Linked DNA regions of Homo sapiens. The protein of the gene in region 1 interacts with the protein of each later gene in a pairwise test. Each region holds a gene or a part of one and is shown in the gene's direction. Other genes may lie near its edges.

Region 1 (3,523 bases):
TATGGGTGACTCTGAAGATGGCCAGGGCAGAGCATCATGACCATAAAGACTGCCAGGGCCCTGAGCAAACCAAGACCTGTTCAGTGCTTGGTGGCCAAATAGTGGTTTTGAGCACTGACTTCTGTGCTTGGCAAGTTCCGTCAGTTTTTGATTCCATGGGACACTGCTTCCTCAGAGAACATCAGGGGAAGACTGAAGACGTAGACTTCCTTCTGGCTCTAGGGTGTAAAATGGGACAGGTTATAACACTGGTGTGGCTTCTGTCAGATTCAGAGGTGACTCCAACACAGAAGGCTGTAAACAGAAGTGCATGATCTGAAAAAGAAGAGCTCACAGCTGTAGTAACACTTCCTTTCTTTCAATTACTATTTTTTTAAATGGAGACATGTTCTCACTATGTTGCCCAGGCTGGTCTCGAACTCCTGGGCTCACGTGTACTAACACTTCCATTGTGGCATTACTGCTTTTGGTTTCCTTGCTGAATATTCCTGTCTCTGGTCCTCAGGAGCAGCAAGACCAATTTCCACTTCAGAAGGTCCTGAAAGTGGCAGCTACGGAACGGGAGTTTGGCAACTACCTTTTCCGCCAGAATCGTTTCTATGATGCCAAAGTGAGATATAAAAGGGTGAGAATGCTTTGAAAGTTAAGTGTAAGTTTAGATCCTGAAAACTTCCTTGTTTAAAAAACACAGATTTTGTTTTGTTGTGATTTTTGTTTTGTTTTGTTTTTGAGACAAGAGTGTCGCTCTGTCGCCCAGGCTGGAGTGCAGTGGCGCAATCTCAGCTCACTGCAAGCTCCGCCTCCTGGGTTCACGCCATTCTCCTGCCTCAGCCTTCCAAGTAGCTGGGACTACAGGCACCCGCCACTTCACCTGGCTAATTTTTTTGTATTTTTAGTAGAGACAGAGTTTCACCGTGTTAGCCAGGATGGTCTCAATGTCCTGACCTCGTGATCTGCCCACCTCGGCCTCCCAAAGTGCTGGGATTACAGGTGTGAGCTACCGCGCCCGGCAAAAAACACAGATTTTTGTCTTTCTCCCTACTTTCTATGAGCAGCCATTAAGAAAAATCTCATTTAAAAAAATCCTCATGCCAGGCCAAGGCAGGTGGATCACCTGAGGTCAGGAGTTTGAGACCAGCCTGGCCAACATGGTGAAACCCCGTCTCTACTAAAAATACAAAATTAGCCGGGCGTGGTGGTGGGTGCCTGTAATCCCAGCTACTTGGGAGGCTGAGGCAAGAGAATCACTTGAACCCAGGAGGTGGAGGTTGAGGTTGCAGTGAGCCGAGATTGTGCCGTTGCATTCCAGCCTGGGCAAGAAAGGCAAAAAAACTCCCATCTCAAAAAAAAAAAAAATCCTCATGCCAAAGGGATAAGTACTGGAGAGGGGACTAACGGGGGGATAAGGGCTGAAGAGGGGACTCTCGAGGGGATAAGGGCTGGAGAGAGGACTCACGGGATTGGGAGGCACCTGGGAATGTTCTGTGTTTTGACGTGGTTCTTGGGTACATGGGTGTGTTCAGGTTGTGAAAAACATTTGCCTCTGTATATGTACTTGAACTAGAAGTGTTTAGAATTTCCATCTCACTGCTCTAAAACAATTCAGTTTATTAACTTTTAAAAATTCTCATCCCAGTGCTTATTAGGTCCTCCACCAACCGATTTCTCCACCCCTTTGCCATCATCATTTCATGTCTCTGACAGTGGAGGCTCATTTGGCGATTCTAGCCTGAGGCAATTGCAGCCTCATCAAGCCTCCTGTTGTGATTTTGCTTCTTGTGTAGGTTATGCTGAGCTGTTTTCTGTTTCCTTTTTAATTTTATTCATTCAACAAACATGGCTGGACGCAGTGGCTCATGCCTGTAATCCCAGCACTTTGGGAGGCTGAGGCGAGTGGATAGCTTGAGGTCAGGAGTTTGAGACCAGCCTGGGCAACGTGGCGAAACCCCGTCTCTACTAAAAATACAAAAATTTGCTGGCATGGTGGTGGGTGCCTGTAATCCCAGCTACTTGGGAGGCTGAAGCAGGAGAATCACTTGAACCCAGGAGGCGGAGGTTGCAATGAGCCAAGATCGCACCACTGCACTCCAGCCTGGGCAACAGGGCAAGATTCTGTCTCCAAAAAAAAAAAAAACAAAACACCACACATGCGTGTGCTGTCTCTGGAACATACTCATATAGGCCAAATGTTGCCGACCCTGTCACCCAATATCTATTCCCCCTTCTCCTAACAGAACCTCCCATTTCACTCAAAGCATCAGTGTACTAATTAAAAAACTACATCTTCCCAGCTTCCCATGAGCTTAGGGTGTCCCTGTAACAAGGGTCTAGCCAAGGAGACATAAAGGGAAACCTCTGGAGGGTCTTCCAGAAAGCTCTTAACATAACACAAGCACCAGACTCTTCTCCCCTCCCTCCTTCCCACCCAGGTGACCCCGCAATGCGTGGCCAGGGGAGAATCTCCCTGGGGCCCGCCACACAGCTCTTGTCCTGGGGCTGCCCTATAATGCTAGTTTGTGGATTTCCTGTTTTTTTCTCAACTTACTCCTTTGTTTTAACAGAGTATGTTGATGTATGTCTAAAATATTCTTGGTTTTTAAATACATATTTGTCTAGAGTTGTTATTAAAAAGTCTTTTGGCTGGGCACGGTGGCTCATGCCTGTAATCCCAGCACTTTGGGAGGCCGAGGCGGGTGGATCACCTGAGGTCAGGAGTTCAAGACCAGCCTGGCGAACATGGTGAAACCCCGTCTCTACTAAAAATACAAAAATTAGCTGGGCGTGTTGGTGGGTGCCCATAGTCCCAGCTACTTGGGAGGCTGAGGCAGGATAATTGCTTGAACCCGGGAGGTGGAGGTTGCAGTGAGCCAAGATGGCATAATTGCACTGCAGCCAGGGGAATAAGAGTGAAACTCCATCTCAAAAAAAAAGGTCTTGCTAGTTCTGAGCTCAAAGCTAACAACAACAACAAAAAAATCTTACTACTACTTAGGTTCTTTATTCCTTTCTACGTGACCTGTTTTTTCTTCTGTAGAGACGAAGATCGTTTTTCCCCGGCATTCCTAAATTTTACGGTGATGTGCCTCTGCGTGTGTGTATCTTTTCATTCAGGAAACTTTTCCTCCACTCTGGGAAACTTTCTTGAGTTATTTCTTTGATAATTTACTCTTGTTCCCTCTGCCCTCTTTGTCTGGAACTCCTATTATCAGACCTCCTGCACTGAGCTTCTGGCTGCTGTCCCTCCCCCCTCCCCACCTAGTTTCCATCTTTTCTCCTGTTTGTGTCATGTATGGAAGCTTTCCTTGACTTTTTGCCACCTCTTCTGATGAATTTTTCATTTAAAACTGGGGGGCCAGGCACAGTGACTCACACCTATAATCCCAGCACTTCAGGAGTCCAAGGTGGGAGGATTGCTTGAAGCCAGGAGTTAAAGATCAGTCTGGGCACCATAGCAAGATCCCATCTCTACAAAAAATAAATTTTAGAAAATTGAAGGGCTATTTGTTCTTCCCCTCCCTAGCAT
Region 2 (3,523 bases), on another chromosome or scaffold:
GGGAGGACTTGAAACACTAAAAAAAAAGAAAAATCATGATGAGAAAAATGGTTAGATTTGTTTACCCTAGAGAAGAGAATGTAAAAATTGCTTTTACCTGTTTGAAAGACAATCAATAGATAAGGGAAATGTATTTTCAAGGCTTAGTTTAAGGACCCTGGTAGAAGTTAAAGAGTCGCTAAAAGGTAGATTTCATTCATGCATTATTTTATGCCATCTGTGTAGCAGATCTAGGGGATGAACAGGACAGATAAAAATCAATATAGGAATACAGGAATTATGTGAACACCAGTTATTGATACCCAGCAATGCCATAGGCTGTTTTGTAAACTAATGAGGTTTCATTGATAAGTGGCCAAATATTACTAAGAGGGGATTTCGATATTGGGTGAGATAATTGAGTGGTGACATTTACTATTGTTTCCATAATTCTAAATGTTGAAAATATATTTAGTCTTTTATGATGTAAAATGATATTTATGAAGCACATTCCTGAAAGGTGCTGCTAAAATGCCTTGACAGGTTGCTTGTTTATGGATTTTCATTTTGCAGAGTTCATAAATCTCAGTCATTTTCAGAGGAATCACAAGCTACTAATGAGAAAACTTACAACTTTAGGGTCTTGTGAAAAAATAATTGAAGAGTAATAGGGAACAGGTTTATAGACCTGAGGCAAAAACTTTTTCAGGGAGTTCTACGATTTTGAGGACTGTCTCTATTCTGTTTATGTCCATAATATTTTCACTACATTTCATGAATTGTTTATATTCTGCCTTGGAACCTAAAGGGACCAGGAGTTTGGCCAGTTACAGAAGGTAAAACAATTGAATATACTTACGATTTATCCGCTTGTGGACCGAGGTTCTTTTCCATTCCAGTTTCATCCCTACTGGGGTATTCCTAACACTGTTCCCCGTTCTGCCCCTTTCCCCTCAACAGATATCTTGGCATTATACTTCCTAGAGAATATGGAGGTACTCTTGAGATTTTTTAGTTACTTCCTCCCCCTTAAAAGATTATTTAAAAATATCTTTCTCAAACTTTTCCTTCCATTCTCAGGGGAAGAAAGAGCTTTCTTTCTAAGGTTAACTTTCTTGCTGTGCTTTTTATTATCCCTTGACCAGTTAGCCTCCCTTGTTCTGACTCCTCTAGTGATTCCTTTTTGTTTTTACTGGCTGCAGACATTTTTCATTCTCCTTTATGCTGAAAAATATATAAAAACCAAAACAATAACAAAACCTACTCCCTACTATTCCCTGTTACTCTCTTTGAGAACAGATGCCTCAAAAGAATAACCTATTTCCAGCCAGGCACGGTGGCTTATGCCTGTAATCCCAGCTACTCAGGAGGCTGAGGCAGGAGAATCACTTGAACCCTGGAGGCGGGAGGTTGCAGTGAGCACCACTGCATTCCAGCCTGGATGACAGAGGGAGACTCTGTCTCAAAAAATTAAAAAATGAATAAAAAAGAATAACCTATTTCCTAGTCTGTTCATTCTTTACCACCCCTTGCAGTTTCTACACCTTCTGCCCTATTGCACTTCTAAAAATGTTATTTTATTTATATGTGTATATATGTATTTTCTTGAAATATAATCCTATACCGTACAAATTACCCATTTAAACTGTACAAATCAGTCGTTTTTAGTATTTGCAGAGTCATGAAACCATCACAATTTTCAGTGTCTCTAATAAACAACTAATCACCAATTAAAGTAAACTTTCCTTAGTTCCTTGTCCTTTAACTTTTCTTTAGCATTTGTCACTGTTGACTACCATCTCTGGTTTAAAGCTGACATCCCATGGTTTGTTTTGCAACAAAGGATGCAAATTTCCCTACTTCTTGGACCAGTCTTTTTCCCTTTCTCTAATTTGGTGATTCTTAGTCTGCAAGTGGGTAAATCATAAGTGCATTCAAGTCTGTTTTACCTTCCTGTCACTGGGCAAACGCTCGCCTTTGGTGATTCTTCCTACTTGGTACAAGTTCACAGAGTTCTGTACCCAGACCCCTTCCTTCTTCACTCTCCATCCCTCCATCCGTCAACATGACTTTATAGTTATCACCTCTGTGTAGATGAACCCCAAGTAGATATGTTCTGTAGAGACTTCAACTGGCCTATTTATCTGTCTGATAGATATTTCCACAAAAGGATCTTAAAGTTCTTCAAGCTTAGTATTTATAGAGCCAAATTCTTTTCCTCCCTCCTTATCAAAACCAGCTTTTTCTCTTGTCTTATCCATTTGTCTTTTTAGTATCACCCTCTGTGTCAGTCAAACTTGAAATCATCTTTTTCCATTCTTTGCCTCATGGCCAATTATGACACACACACCCCTTGTTCCAGCTGCCATTGTGTGGAGACAGGTGTATTAGGCATTACTTGAACTGCTACTATAATCTCCTAACTCTTCCTCTTTCTGCATACCTCTAAACAGCCCTTACCTCATTATGTTCTCTCCCCTTACATGCGTTATTATTTGTGGCACTTAAGATTCCCTGACAAATATTCATATATTTCTTTCTTATTGTCTCTCCCACTAGAATGTAAGCTTCCTGGGGCAAAGACCTTACTTATCTTGTGCCCTGCCATGCCATTAAGGCCTGGCTCATAGTAAATGCTCAGGAAATATTTAAATGAAAAAGTACATGGAAAACTGTTAGGCGTATGTATATTAAAGTAGCAATTCCCAACTGTGAATAAATTGCTAAGATGTGCTAAGATATTGATTCCCTCAGCCAACTGTCCAGTTGCCTTCTGTTCTATAAGAATATATGTACATGTTTAACACTTATTAATAATCAAACACCAGAAACATTTACATGCCCAAACAGTAGAATGTATAGATAAAGTGTGTTGCATTCATAGGATATAACTGTACTGTACAGCAGACTTTCTCAGCTTTGGCACTATTGACATGTTGGACCAGATAATTTCTTGTCATGGGGGATTGTTCTGTGCACTGAGGACATTCAGCAACATTCCTGGCCTCTACCCACACTAGATGCCAGTGGCAACCCCCCAGTTAGGAAAACCAGAAGTGTCTTCAGACATTGCCAAATGTCCCCTGGGGGGCAAAATTGTCCCAGGTTTAAAAACCACTGCTCTGCGGCAGTGAGAATGAACAAATACTGCTTTATGCAACAACAGGAATGAATCCCATGAACTTAATATTGAGCAGAAGAAACCAAATGTAAAAGTGGTACTGTGTCATCGCACAGTCCTTCAAAAACAGGCAAAACAAATTGATGGAAATAGAGGTCAGAATAGTTATCTTTGGGAGGATAGTCACTAGGAAAGAACGAAGAGAGCTTCTGGAATGTTGGTACTGTTCTCTTTCTCAACTGAATAGTGTTAACACAGGTGTGTTTACTTTGTGAAAAACAATCAGCCATACACTTATAATTAGTTCACTTTTCTTTTTGTATGCTATAATTCAAATCACAGTGTTGTAATTTATGAAAGCAGTACCCACACATAAGCAAGTATTCCTTGGCTATCGAGGGATTGATGAAGATAAGGAGTCCT

What was found.
Region 2: the proteins of FKBP6 (region 1) and CCNK interact in a two-hybrid assay, tested with the Homo sapiens proteins (one large-scale study listed by BioGRID and IntAct).

The regions. Positions count from the first base shown.
Region 1 is NC_000007.14:73,331,152-73,334,674, forward strand, and holds part of FKBP6 (inactive peptidyl-prolyl cis-trans isomerase FKBP6), read left to right. Parts: intron 1-505; coding exon 506-625; intron 626-3,523. UniProt on the Homo sapiens protein: Has an essential role in spermatogenesis. It is required to repress transposable elements and prevent their mobilization, which is essential for the germline integrity.
Region 2 is NC_000014.9:99,484,409-99,487,931, forward strand, and holds part of CCNK (cyclin-K), read left to right. Parts: intron 1-2,044; exon of another isoform or gene 2,045-2,050; intron 2,051-3,523. UniProt on the Homo sapiens protein: Regulatory subunit of cyclin-dependent kinases that mediates activation of target kinases.